2 separate regions of the Homo sapiens genome follow, and region 2 is linked to region 1. The links come from fine-mapping of genetic effects on plasma protein levels. A gene starts in region 1. The other region holds a variant in brackets. All regions are shown on one strand. Distances are from middle to middle.

Region 1 (9,434 bases):
GGGTGTCATCCGGGCCCACCTCCTCCACCTGGGGTCACGGGGGCTCATCTGGACCCACCTCGTCCACCTGGGGTCATGTGGGCTCATCTGGACCCACATCATCCACCTAGGACCACCTGGGTGTCTTGAGGCCTGTCCATCTGACCCCAGGGAAGGGAAGCCTGCCCCCTCCTCATGCCTGCACAGGCATCAAGAGTCATGAGCGTACCCATGCCTCTCTCCCCTAAGCCAGCTTGGGGTTTGAAGCCAGAAGAGGGGCCCTTTGTCCACATCCCCTGCTGTAGGGGCAGAAGGTGACAACTGGAGTTGCTGCCCAGATGGGAGGGGCTCACACCTACCTTGGGTGCTGGGACTGCACCTGCCTCCCACAGCAGCACAACCACCAGGCTGGTGACCAGGAGGAGCCTGAGGGGGGGCCAGAGAGGGAAGTGTGAGGTAGGGGAAGGGGACGCCCTGAACTCCAGGCAGCACCCTGATGGGCAGCTGGGAGGCCTGGGCTGGGTTCCTCCTTGGGAGCGCAGGTAGTTTTACTGGACTGTGCTCACATGGGCCAAGACACGCAGGCACAGAACAGGGAGAAGCCCCAGGCCCACCTGCCTCCAGCCCCCCTCAGGCCAGAGCCCACAGCCCCAGCCCCAGACTCTGCTCCTCACAGTCTGGGCAGACCCCACTGTGGCAGGCACTGGTGGTTGGCTTGGAAACTCCAGAGGTTCTGCCATGCCTCTGTGCCGCCCTCCACGTGGGGACACACATGAACACACTTGCACATGGGTGTGGGTATGGGTGGGTATGGAGCAGCGAGGGCCCACAGCCCCACGCCCACAGAGCCCTGAGGCTGCACGCTGCTGCAGGCAGGGCACCTGCTGTGTCCCAGAGCTGCGGGGCCACGGCTGGGGGGCTCAGGGGTGAATGGCAGCACTATTAGGCAGGCAGGCAGGGTGTCAGGTCAGTTCGGACACGGGATGTGTGTGTTTGTGTATGTGGTGGGGGGTGTGCATATGTTGTCTGTGCATGTGTGTTTTGTGGGTGTGGACCATGTGCATGGTGGGTGTGCATGTATGCTGTGGGTGGTGTCGTGTTCGGGTGTGTGTGCACTGTGTGCTTCAGTGTGTGGTGCATGTGTATGTTGTGTGTGGTGCGGAGTGTGTGAGTTCGGGGGTGCGTGTGCTGTGTGTGTATGTTATGTGTGTTTGTGTGTGGTGGATGTGTGTGTATGTTGTGTGTGGTGTGGAGTGTGTGGGCTTGGGTGTGTGTGTGTGCTGTGTGTGCATGTATGTGTTGGATGTGTATGTATGTTGTGTGTGGGGTGGAGCGTAAGGGTTTGGGGGTGGGTGTGTGCTGTGTGCATGCGTGTGTGGTGTGTAGAGTGTGAGGGTTTGGGAGTGTGTCTGTGTGTGCGTGCGTGTGTGATGTGGTGCAGACTTGTCTCTTCAGGGCCCTGCGGGGGAGGCTTGCGTCTGTCAGGGTGGGGTGGTCTTGGGGTGGGGCGGGGCTCTGGGTCTGTACAGGGCTCAGCAGGGCTGCAGTCAAGGGTGTCTGGGGCAGGCGCAGTGGTTCACACCCATAATCCCAGCACTTTGGGAGGCTGAGGTGGGCAGATCACCTGAGGTCAGGAGTTTGAGACCAGCCTGGCCAACATGGCAAAACTCCGTCTCTACTAAAAATATGAAACTGCCTGGGCACGGTGACTCACGCCTGTAATCCCAGCACTTTGGGAGGCTGAGGCAACAGATCACTTGAGGTTAGGCATTCGAAACCAGCCTGGCCAATATGGTGAAAACTTGTCTCTACTAAAAATACAAAAAAAAAAAAAAAAAAATTAGCCAGGCGTGGTGGCAGGTGCCTGTAATCCCAGCTACTTGGGAGGCTGAGGCAGGAGAATCACTTGAACCTGGGAGGTGGAGGTTTCAATGAGCCAAGATGGCGCCACTGCAGTCCCTCCAGCCTGGGCGACAGAGCGAGACACTCTGTCTCAAAAAAAAAAAAACAAAACTTAGCTGGGGGTGGTGGCACACACCTGTAATCGCAGCTACTCCTGCTGAGGCAGAAGAATCAGTGTCTGGGACACCCTGCAGGCCTGGATTGCAGCTCCACAGGGACCTTTGCCCGTTCTCTGGGTGACTCAGCCATGGTGAGAGGTCAAAGGGCAGGGGGGATGCCCCGGACAGCCCGGGGCCGGGACCTGGTCTGGTCTGGTTCGGGGGCCCTGCTTCTCCTCAGGACCCCCAGCTGGTTCTGATGCTGGGCAGGGGCTCTTGTCTGGGCACTGGACCCCAATCCCACTGCCGTGCTGCCTGGGCCACCCCTGGTGCCCACCTCCCATGACACACAGCCTGGGGGCCTGGGATTCGGGTCACGGTAGCCCCTAGAAAGGTGGTCGGTGGTGACTGCCAAGCAGCCTGGCTGTGGGATCCCCGTGGGTCCCCTCTCCAGGCAAACGGCTCTGGGCACCAAAGGGTCCCCAAGCTACCCAGAAGCCACCTCTCTACAAGGGAGAAACACCAGGAGAGGAGGGGCAGGGAGGGCCCTGGCTTAGAGGAGGGGGAAGAGGAGGAGGGCACCTCCACAGGAGCGGGGAGAGGGGTCCCCCACACAAGGAGGGGGAAGACAGACACCCCCACAGAAGGAAGGCAGCCTCTGATTCCAGGGTCCAGCGGGAGCCCGGGTGCTTCCCTGAGCTCCAGATCACAGCTCCCAGGGTGACACCACCTCAGGGCAGCCCCTGGCTCCTGCGCCCCAGCCCCTCCCCTCCCCCAGCCCCCTTCCTTTTGGGCAGTCACAGGCCTGCTGGTTTCAGCCTGGCACCTCCCCTTTCCTTGTTCCGGGTGGGGGTCCCTGGGTGATTCTCCACCAGGCCAGGGGAACCAAGAGGCAAGTGCACTCGGGGCCACAGAGGAGGTAGAGCCTGGTGGCAGACCCCAGACCCTCAGAGGGCCCCTCCTTCTCCCTCCCACCCGCACACTCCCCTGAACCAGGCCCCCTGGAGCGCAGCACAGCTGGGCCCCCTCTGGCTAAGGGCCAGGCCTCCAGGTTTGGGTGGGGTGGGGATTGGGGCTCAGGGATGGTGGCATTACCTCCTCATGTCTGGGGTCCGCGTCTCTGTAGAGAGTGCTCAGGGAGCTGCAGTGGCTGATCCCAGTATCTGGCACCCGGCCCAGCTCCTCCTGCCCAGGCCCAGGCCAATTGGGGCTTTGTTGCTGCCGCTTGGGGCGTGTCAGGACAGAGGTCGGGGCCAGGGATCCCACCCTGGGTAGCTCAGGTGACTGGCTCTGCAGCCGCCCAGCCCACTCGGGCCTGGATCTGAGCGGGGACACCCAGCTGCCTGCTCAGGGCCTGCCACACGACTGAGGAAGAAATTTGCCTTTAAAAACATGCTTGTTGACCGGGCGCGGTGGCTCACACCTGTAATCCCAGCACTTTGGGAGGCTGAGGCAGGTGGATTGCCTGAAGTCAGGGGATTGAGACCAGCCTGGCCAACATAGTGAAACTCCGTCTCTACTAAAAATAAAAAAAATTAAGTGGGCGTGGTGGTGGGCTCCTGTCATTCCAGCTACTCAGGAGGCTGAGGCAGGAGAATTGCTTGAACCTGGGAGGCGGAGGTTGCAGTGAGCCGAGATTGCGCCACTGCAGTCCAGCCTGGGCAACAAAGAGCGAAACTCAGTCAAAAAACAAAACAAAACAAAACAACACCAAAAAAAAAAAACCTGCTTGTCATGAAGGCTGAACCGTGCTCACAACCAAGGCAACTTGGAAGGGTGTCGTGGGCAGCTGTCCCCAGCTCAGCTGAAGCACTTCCTTCCTCAGGTGGGCGTGACAAATCCCCCATCCAGCCCCAGCCCACCTGCCTGTCACACCTGCCCCTGCCCACCACCTGCGGCAGGGCGGGACCAGCTCAGCTCCACCACCGTGGAACCCTCACCCCCAACGCCACCACCTTCCCCACCCCTTCCAGGCGCTCCCTCCTGTCCTTCCTTACTGGGCACACCAGCCTGAGGAGTCTTGCACGCTGTGTGGCCAGGGCCCGCTCCACGGGGCCCAGTGCCCTCATTGCCTTTTTTATTTTATTTTTTTTGAGACAGTCTCACTCTGTCACCCAGGCTGGAGTGCAGTGGCGCGATCTCAGCTCACTGCAACCTCCGCCTCCTGGGTTCCAGTGATTCTCCCGCCTCAGCCTCCTGAGTAGATGGGACTACAGGTGTGCACCAACACGCCCAGCTAATTTTTGTATATTTAATAGAAACGAGGTTTCGCCATGTTGCCCAGGCTGGTCTCGAACTCCTGACCTAAGTGATCCGCCTGCCTCGGGCTCCCAAAGTGCTGGGATTACAGGCATGAGCCACTGCGCCCGGCCCTGACCACCTTCTTTAGCCGTCCCTGGCACACCCTGTAAAACAAAAACACAATTCCAATCTCCGCCTGACCCCACCCGACTGATGGACCCTCCCTAAGCCCAGGGCATTCCACGGTTAACCTGAAAACTAGTTCAGGCCATAATGGGAAGTGGGGGTCAGACAGGCCTCATTGTACCCGCCTCCTTTTGGAATTCAGGCAAAACTGACCAGCATTAACATTAAAACAGAGACCTTAAGACTAATAGAACAGACTCTGACAAGAAATAGTCCCTTTTATTGATTCTATCTGCATATACTTGGTCTCCACAACACCTTATCTTAACCCTGACTTTCCCTTCTATTGATTCTAGGTCTTTAGATAATAACTTAACTCTTTTGACCAATTGTCAATTGGAAAATTACTGAATCCACCAATGACCTGGACACCCGCCGCCTTTCTGGACCAAACCCATGTACATCTCCCACGTACTGAGTGATGTCTCGTGTCCCGAACATGTATCAAACCAGCTGCACCCCAACCCTCTCGGGCCACACATGTTCTCAGGATCTCCTGGGACGGCATCATGGGCCTTCCGTCACTCATATTTGGCTCAGAATCACTCTCCAAGTATTTTACAGGGTTTCACTCTTTTCCTCGACAACCCCCAGCGGGCAGCTACTGTTGGGGGCTCTGAGACCGCCGGCCTGCAGGGTATGGTTCTCCCGAAGCTGCATGTTCAGACACAATTGGAGGCCGTGCTTCCAAGGGGGTGGAGTGAGGGCCCTCAAGAAAGGCCAACTCAGGAATTTCCAACGTGACCCACAGCGTCTGAGCTATTGAGGAGGGGTCACCCGAAGAAGCCGCTGGGCTTGGGTGAGAACAGATGTTCCTCTGGCCTTCTTGCCTGGGGCTGCTCCTGAAACCACCTTTGCGAAAACCTGATAGTGAATCTGACCTAACCGACTCCACCTTGCTTCTAACCTCCAACCTGTCCTTGTTCATTCCTGGGTGTAGGTCACACCAACTTTGGGAGGATCTTAGTTTATAGTTTAATGTTGAAACAAAGATGAAAACAGCCCCTTCCTGAACAAACCCCCTTCTTGCCTGGGGACCAGACTGCCTTTGTAAAACTAACAAATTAGTCACAAGATTAGAAATTATGGTTTAGGAAACTTCTAGTGGCTTGAGGTATCGGCCGGAGCGGCCGGGTGGCGGGAGGAACCGTTACGGGAACTGAAGTTGCCGATTAAGCCTGATCAAGATGCCAACCTCCCAAAAGCACCGAGACTTCAGGGCAGAGCCCATGGGGGAAAAGCTAGTGGGGAGCCTGGCCAGGATTGGTGAAGTCCTGGGCAAGAAGCTGGAGGAAAGGGGCTTTGACAAGGCCTATGTTGTCCTTGGCCAGTTTCTGGTGCTGAGGAAAGATGAAGACCTGTTCCGGGAATGGCCAAAGGACTCGTGGTGCCAACACCAAGCAGTCCCGGGACTTCGGATGCCTTCGAGAGCATGCGATGCCTTCTTGTGATGCTCTCCAGGAAGCTCTCAATCCCCAGCCCTCACCCAGAGTTTGTAGCCGAGTCGGGACTCCTCCCCTGTCCTCTACAAAGGAGAAGATTGCTATTGTCATACTCACGTCTGACGCACTCTGGGTCTTTTGGGAGTTTTCTCCCCTAACCATTTCAACTTTTTTGGACTCTCACTCTTGCATGTCTCCCCCTTCCTTTTTCACTTTCCCTGGTGACAGTTACCAGCTTTCCTGAATGGATTCCTGGCCCCGTCCCTCACCTCCACCCTCACTTTCAGTCCATTTGATACTATTTGGCTCCTTTTTTGGCAGAACAGTCACTGTCCTTGTAAAGTTTTTTAGATCAAGAAAGTCAGTGGCTTTCATGAAAAATAAAAAAGAAATTATGTTTTAGGTGTCAGGCAGGACCGGGCGCGGTGGCTCACGCCTGTAATCCCAGCACTTTGGGAGGCCGAGGCAGGCGGATCACGAGGTCAGGAGATCAAGACCATCCTGGCTAACATGGTGAAACCCCGTCTCTACTAAAAATACAAAAAATTAGCCGGACGTGGTTGCAGGCGCCTGTAGTCCCAGCTATTCGGGAGGCTGAGGCAGGAGAATGGCCTGAACCTGGGAGGCGGAGCTTGCAGTGAGCAGAGATCACGCCATTGCACTCCAGCCTGGGTGACAGAGCGAGACTCCGTCTCAAAAAAAAAAAAAAAAAAAAAAAAAGGAGTCAGGCAGCTGGAGGCCACAAGATTCTAAGCCTCCCCAATTATTCTTAGGGAAAACATCACTATTGTAAATCCTAAGATTGGTGCTCGAGACATTTTTCGGACTCTGAACTTGGTGGAACAGCTGGTGCCACCCAGATCCATGAACTGGCTCACCTGGTCTTGTGGCCCCCACTCAGGAAGTGACTCAGCACAAGAGGACAGATTCGACTCCCTGTGATTTCATCTGCAACCCAACCGATCAGCACTCCCTGCTTCCCAACCCCTACCCACCAAATTATCCTTTAAAATTTGAGTAGTGATAAAGCTCCAGCCTCCCGTTCAGCCGGCTCCGCGTGAATTAAACTTTCCGTGTTGCAGTTTCTCTCTGCCCTGATAAATCGGCTCTCTCTGGGCAGCAAGCAGAATGAGCCTGTTGGGCAGCTACACTCCCACCCACCCCTCAGTGGCCGAGTGGCTCCACGGGGGAGGCAGCAGAAGGCCAGTGGCTCAGGGAACTGGGGTCCCCAAGGGGATTATGAGCAGTGATTGGCAGGCCAGCCCGAACTTGAATGGGGTGATCAGGTCTGGAATGAGAAAGGCACAGGGAGCCTCCCCAGGTTCCCACACAGTCCCAGCTGACCTCCCCATTCCTCTGGCCCAACACAAGTCTGTGCATTCACACTCAGGAGACGGGAGACAGCCGGTGGGAAGTAAAGGTCGGGCACCTTAAAAACTGCATCCACACAGAGCGTGGCCCCCAGCCCACCCTTGAGGCACCAGCAGAGTGGGTCCCGCGGCCTGAGCACAGCCTCCAACCACACAACCCAGTGTGACTCAAGGAAGATAGGCTTAAAAAACTGGGCGGAGACACCAGGCCACGTGCTACAGGGGAAACAAAGTCCACAGATTTCAACAAAACAGCAACAACAACCCTTGGGAGAAAATATCAGAACTCAAAATGTTTGCAATATATTATCTAAAACATCTAGTCTTTAGTAAAATGAGACGAGGTCCCCAGGCTCGTCTCGAACTCCTGGGCTCAAGCAATCCTCCCACTCAGGCCTCCCAAAGTGCTGGGACCACAGGCATGAGCCACTGTGACTAGCCTGTTGTATATTTTAAATTAACAAAAAAGAGTGGAATTAGAATGTTAGCACAAAGAAATGATACAATCTTGGGGTTATGGATACCCCAATTATCCTGGTTTGATCATTACATATGGCATCCGTGTACCCCATGGATATATATACCTATTATGTACCCATAATAATTAAAACTTTTTAAAAATTAAAAATAAAGGGCCAGGTGCAGTGGCTCACGCCTGTAATTCCAGCGCTTTGGGAAGCCGAGGCGGGAGGATCACTCGCGGTCAGGAGTTCGAGACCACCCTGGCCAAAATAGCGAAACCCCGTTTCTACTAAGAATACAAAAATTGGCTGGGTGTGGTGGCAGGCGCCTATAGTCCCAGCTACTAGGGAGGCTGAGGCAGGAGAATCGCTTGAACCCGGGAGGCGGAGGTTGCAGTGAGATGAGACTGCACCACTGCACTCCAGCCTGGTTGACAGAGTGAGACTCCATCTCAAAAAAATAATAATAAAACTAAAAAAAAGAAAGAAAAGGACTTATACCCAGAATATAAAAAGAACTCTTACAACTCAACAATAAAAAGACAAACAACCCAACTGAAAAATATTCAAAACATTTGCACAGACATTTCACCATAGATGATTTACAAATGGTGACTCCACCCTGAGAAGATGTTCAGCACCACTTGTCACTAGGGCGACGTGGACTCAAGCCACAGCTACACTCCTATAGGACGGTGTTATGGGCTGTGTCCCCTCTAAATTCATACATTGATGTCCTAACCCCTCAGAATATGACGATATTTGGAGATGGGTTTTTAAAGATGTAAGTAAGGTAAAGCAAGGTTATTAGGGTGGACCCTAATTCAACAGGACTGGTGTCCTTATAAGAAGAGATGAGAACACACAGATACGCCAAAGGGAAGACCATGTAAGGACACGGGGAGGTGTGGCCACCCACAAACCCAGGGAGCAGCCTCAGGAGGAGCCAACCCTGCCAACAGCTCCAACCCTGCCGACAGCTCCGTCTCAGACGTCAGCCTCCATCGCTGTGAGAACATGAATTTCCATTGTTGAAGCTGCCCAGTCTCTGGCAATTTGTTATGGCAGCCTCAGCTAAGACAGATGGCTAGTATAAAAAAGACAAAATCAAGGATCAAGAGTTGGTTGCTGGGCACGGTGGCTCACGCCTGTCATCCCAGCACTTTAGGAGGCCGAGGCGGGTTGAGACCATCCTGGCCAACATGGTGAAACCCCATCTTTACTAAAAATACAAAAATTAGCCAGGCGTGGTGGCATGAGCCTATAGTCCCAGCTACTTGGGTGCCTGAGGCAGGAGAATCGTTTGAACCCGGGAGGTGGAGGTTGCAATGAGCCAAGATCGTGCCACTGTACTCCAGCCTGGCCAGAGGGAGACTGTCTCAAAAAAAAAAAAAAATCAAGAGGTGGTGAGGATGTGGAGAAACTGGAACCCTCCTATACTGCTGGTGGGAATGTCACATGGTACGGCCACTTTGGAAAAACACATTTTAGCATTTTCTTTCAAAGTTAAATGTCAACTTTCCATCAAATTTGGCAATTCCACTCTTCAGTAACTACCCAAGAGAAAGAAAAGCACACGTCCACCAAGGTTGTGATAAGAATGTTCACCACAACATTATAAACAGCTGACAAACTGGAAACAGTTCATACGGATGAATGGATGAAACCTGGAGAATCCATGGGTTAACAGCAATAATGGCCGGGCGTGGTGGCTCACGCCTGTAATCACAGCACTTTGGGAGGCCAAGGCAGGCG
Region 2 (4,775 bases), 15 kb before region 1:
TCTCACGGCATGACAGCCTTCGTCACCCAGCCTGTGAGGGTCCTGACTGGAGCACCTTCTAAATCTAAGATTCTGCTGAGGAGCCCCCGCTGGTCCCTCTGGGCATGCTGTGCTCGGACGGAAAGCGGGGCCTGCGGGTCCTTGTGTCCCTGCCGCTGAAGAATGGGGCTGCTCTGAGGGAAACGCTGTCTGCTGCCTTCATACAGATGCTGATTAAAGTGATAGCGATTCAGATTACACCACGCCTTGTAGTCATGTCTGCAATGAGCATTCTGTCATGTTAGTTGTTTTTTTAAACTTTTTTGTTTTTTCACTGTAAGGAACAACATTCAAACAAAACAAGTTTGTATAGTCAGTTGCCTCACATCATACTTCCAGGGT[A/G]GCCACTGTGAACAGCTGGGCTTGTGACTTCCTAGAGTTCTGTGCACGCACCCACACACCCCTGCACACGGGCACAGGCATGGTCTATGGTTTTCTTCCACGCCCACTCACGTCGAGCCCTTTCCTCACGAGAGCCCACCCTATTTTCTTCCTACTTCTGTCATAAGGAGCTCTCTGTTCAGTTTACTGCATTCTTCTCTACTGTGGGAACACACGACGTCAACTTGATCATCTTAACCACTGTGTTTTAGAGACGGGCTGGAGTGCGTGGCTCAGTCACAGCTCACTGCAGCTTGAATCTCCTGGGCTCAAGTGATCCTCCCCCCCTCCCAAGTAGCTGGGACCACAGGGGCGCACTCCCACACCCAGCTGACTGTTTAAATTTACCTTTTGTAGAGACGGGGTTTCCCCGTGTTGCCCAGGCTGGTCTGAACCATTTCAAATGCACATTTCAGCGGCATTAAGTACGTTCTCGTTGTGCAGCCATGACTATCCAAGAAAGCTTTCATTTTCCCAAACGGAAACTGTCCCCGTTAAACAACAACCCCTTTTCTGCTTCCCTCCAGCTCCTGGCACCCACGCTTCTACTTCCTGTCTCTATGGAGGGACCTCCATTTATCCCTTTGGGTCAGGCTCATTTCACTCAGCCCCACCCCAAATCCCTGGGTTGAAATCCTAACCCCTACCGTGACTGCATTAGGAGGGGGGACTTTGGGCAATGACTAGTCACAAGGGCAGAGCTCTTCGAGTGGGTTTAGTGTCCTAGGAGAGAGAGGGTGGAGCTCCTCCAGTGGGATTAGTGCCCTATGAGGGGGCGGAGCTCCTCCAGTGGGATTAGTGCCCTATGAGGGCAGAGCTCTTCAAGTGGGATTAGTGCCCTATGAGGGGGCAGAGCTCTTTGGGATTAGTGCCCTGTGAGAGGGCGGAGCTCTTTGAGTGGGATTAGTGCCCTATGAGAGGGCGGAGCTCCTTCAGTGGGATTAATGCCCTAAGAGAAGGCAGAGCTCTTCCAGTGGGATTAGTGCCCTATGAGAGGATGGAGCTCTTCCAGTGAGATTAGTGCCCTATGAGAGGGCGGAGCTCCTCCAGTGGGATTACTGCCCTATGAGAAGATGGAGCTCTTTGAGTGGGATTAGTGCCCTATGAGAGGGCGGAGCTCCTCCAGTGGGATTAGTGCCCTATGAGGGGGCGGAGCTCCTCCAGTGGGATTACTGCCCTTAGGAGAGCCCTGAGGGCACTCTTTCACCCCTCCCACAATGTGAGTGCTCTGTGGGAAGGTGCTGTCTGTAAACCAGGGTGGGCCTCATCACACACCGAACCTGCCTGGAGCCTTGGCCTCCAGAACTGTGGAAAGTCAGTGTTTATCAGCCACCCAGACCATGCCACTGCATCACAGCAGCCCAAGCTAAGGCACATACTGTCCAGAAGGTTTGTGCCTGTTGTGGCATGTTTCACCATTTGATTTTCTCACTAAATGACAGTCCTATAACATTCTTTTTAGTGGCCCTGACGTTTCATACTATGGACATGTCATCATGCCCTTGGTTCTAGGTATTTCCCCCAGGGAAGCCCACCTGCCCCCAGCTCAGTGCAGACGCCAGAGAGCGTTTGCCGGTGTCTCCTCCACTTGGCCCCGCAGCTCAGTGTGCGTAGGTGGTCTAGATTGTGGTCATGGCCTTGGGTTGGGTGGGCAGAGTGTGTGAGCCCCCACCGCTGAGGACTTGGGCTGAATACCAAGGACAGGTTCACCTGCATCAAGAAAGAAGAACAGTGATCTTTGCCGAGCTCTGGTTCCCTGAACGCTGCAGGTGCCACGCCCGTGTGTCCGGTTACATGTACACGCAAAGGGGACACACGCATGCTCTGCGACCGCTTGCCTCGGAGGCATTGGCTCTGCACTCCCACCCACCCCGTCTGTCCTCCTGTGTGCTGTGATTGGAGTCCACTAGTTCAGAGCCGGCTTCAGGGTGGAGCAGGTTTATCTCGCTTCTGCCAGGGCAGGTGGGAGTTCTCATGCAGTTGGCCTTAAAACAGGCGGGAGATGTTCTTTTCAGATAAGCCTCAGATAAGCCTTGGGATCTGGGACTGTTTGACAAATACTGAAACAGGTACAAAGGGAGTTTGATTCAGGTCCAACAGGGCATAACAGGCTCTTCCCTTGGGGTAGGGAATCTGGAACCTGCTCACTTACTGGAGTGGAGCACGTGGAGTCTGCGTGGGTCATGAACCACTGGCCCTGGAGCCTGGAGTAAATATGCAGAGATAGATAGGCACCAAATGTTCAAGTATGCAAGGGAGGAAGCCTGAACATTGAGAAAATCCACTCCGTTTAATTTTTCATGTGCACTGGGGTCAGCCTCCATAATCTGATTTCAAGCAATGGAACCTCAGAGATCCGTAGGGCTGGCTGCAGCCTCACGTTCATACCTGTGTCAGCCACACTTGGCTGGAAGCCAAGAAAGGGCCCAGCATGGAAGCCGCATCTCAGAGGGCTGCGTCTAGTTATCTGGTTCCAGAGCTTGGCAGGGACAGACACCCAACCCTTAGGCTGGGGAATGGACTTTGTCTTCATGCTGGCCCCAGGGAGCCTGGAGGGAGGGGTGCCACTGTCCGGGGCAGGGGAACCCCAGACTCAGAGTGAGGCTTCCACTCACTCCTGAGCTAGTTGACCTCTGGCCCCATTATTGTTTGGGGTTTGATTAGGTGTTTTTTCTTTGTTGGTTTTGTTTTTTTTTTTGAGACGGAGTCACTTTCTGTCACCCAGGCTGGAGAGCAGTGGAGTGATCTCGGCTCACTGCACCCTCCGCTTCCCGGGTTCAAGCAATTCTCGTGCCTCAGCCTCCCAAGTAGCTGGGATTACAGGCACCAGTCACCATGCCTGGCTAATTTTTGTATATTTTGAAGAGACGGGGTTTCACCATGTTGGCCAGGCTGGTCTCCAACCCCTGACCTCAAGTGATCCGCCCGCCTCGGCCTCCCAAAGTGCTGGGATCACAGGTGTGAGCCACCGCGCCCGGCCTGATTTGGTTTTGAAGCTGAAAACTTTCTTGCCCATCTCTATAAAATCCTCTTGCCCTTGTATATTTGGGTAAACGGTGACTCTCCACTTACAAGTTGGAGTAGAAACTGCCCAGGTACAGCTCTGAAACCCGGTGGCCTCGGTGCAAAGCCACCCCTCATTGGCAGGCCCTGGGCAGCCCCGGTCTTCTCTCTGCCCGAGTGGCCGGCCCAGGGCCAGCTGTTCAGGTGCTGCTGGGTGCCAGCCTGGGTGGCCCCACCAGGCTTTTCCGACGCAGCCCAGGCCACTTCCCATGGGGACAGGCTCCTAGGGCCAAGCAGTTCAACATGGAGACGTCTGTTTCCTCCTGGTTTTCTGACGCGGCTTTGTCATTTTTCACATACAGATTGATTTTCAGAACTTTTTAGGAGCCGCCAGGCCTCAGAGCATTTGTGTCACCTCAGGGCTGAGGGCCAGGGCCGCAGTGCTAGCCCCACAGCTGGTGTCCAGCTGGGAATCATGTGGAAGAAGGTGGTTCCGCGGAGGGAGGGCCTGGCCAGCCTGAGCTCAGCCAAAGGTCAGGATGCCGCCATCCTGGGCAGGGGGTTGCAGGCCGCTGACACCGGGGGATGATGGAGGACCCTTAGGTGTCCTGGCACTTCGCAGCTGAGCCTGGAAGCTGGGCCTGGCTGCCCTCCTGGACTCCCCCCAAGGGGGTCCGAAGTCCTGGCTCCCGTGTCCCTTGCTCCCGGTCCCTCAGGAGCGTGGGCTGAAGGCCTGGGTCCAGCTACCCACCATGGTGACCCCAGGGACCCGGTGCGCTCCGGGCATTCTGCCAGGCCTAAGGGCAGCACGAAGTGGTCAGAGGGCAGAGACCCTCATGAGGGGAGGCCGCGGCGGTTGAACCCCTTCGGCCTGAGGGAGCTCGGGGTGGGAGGCTCGGGTAGGGACACTGGGGAGCCCCCGGCCACAGCGCAAGGGCACCCGAGTCTCGGACCTGGCGAGGAGCCCGTGGGCTGGCTGGGTGTTGCCCCCACGCCACGACTCAGCCCGCACGTCCCCAGTTCCTGGGGCTCCCCGCCCTTCCTTGAGCCGCAAGCGGACCCCAGCCCGCCGAACCCTAGGCCCGGCCCGTCCCCAAGCCCCAAGCCCGGGACCCTAAAGCCCCGCCCTCCAATAAAGCCCCGCCCTCCCCGTAAAGCCCCGCCTCTGCCCCTAAGCCCCGCCCTCCCCGTAAGGCCCCCGCCTCTGCCCCCAAGCCCCGCCCTCCCCGTAAGGCCCCGCCCCGGCCCCCAAGCCCCGCCCCTAGGCCCCGCCCGCCCCGTCTGCCGGGCCATGGTGGCGCTGAAGGGTGTCCCCGCACTGCTGTCCCCCGAGCTGCTCTACGCGCTGGCGC

Which allele goes with the higher level. Alleles are on the strand shown, and positions count from the first base shown. The strength of an association depends on the size of the effect and on how common the allele is.
For the plasma level of the protein whose gene starts at base 3,127 in region 1, allele G in region 2 goes with a lower level than allele A (moderate association).

Evidence for each region. PIP is the posterior inclusion probability: the model's chance that the variant is causal. Protein levels are from antibody-based Olink assays in UK Biobank. Linkage for the fine-mapping came from a reference panel and not from the study's own genotypes, which makes the PIPs less certain.
Region 2: its variant is fine-mapped to the plasma level of the PRAP1 protein (UK Biobank, PIP above 0.99).

Annotation. Positions count from the first base shown.
Region 1 is chr10:133,341,066-133,350,499 of GRCh38, reverse strand. PRAP1 (proline rich acidic protein 1) reads right to left here and starts at 3,127. Exons shown (of 5, transcript NM_145202.5): 1 at 3,075-3,127; 2 at 339-405. The coding sequence starts at 3,082. It overlaps ZNF511-PRAP1 (ZNF511-PRAP1 readthrough), which reads right to left. Exons shown (of 9, transcript NM_001396060.1): 6 at 339-405. It also overlaps the pseudogene BANF1P2. RefSeq lists enhancers at 1,782-2,441, 2,442-3,101, 3,102-3,761.
Region 2 is chr10:133,357,947-133,362,721 of GRCh38, reverse strand. FUOM (fucose mutarotase) reads left to right here and starts at 4,703. Exons shown (of 6, transcript NM_001098483.3): 1 at 4,703-4,775. The coding sequence starts at 4,715. ECHS1 (enoyl-CoA hydratase, short chain 1) reads left to right here. Exons shown (of 8, transcript NM_004092.4): 8 at 1-237. RefSeq lists silencers at 3,280-3,442, 4,475-4,554, 4,605-4,775. The variant A/G (reference allele first, on the strand shown) is at 382.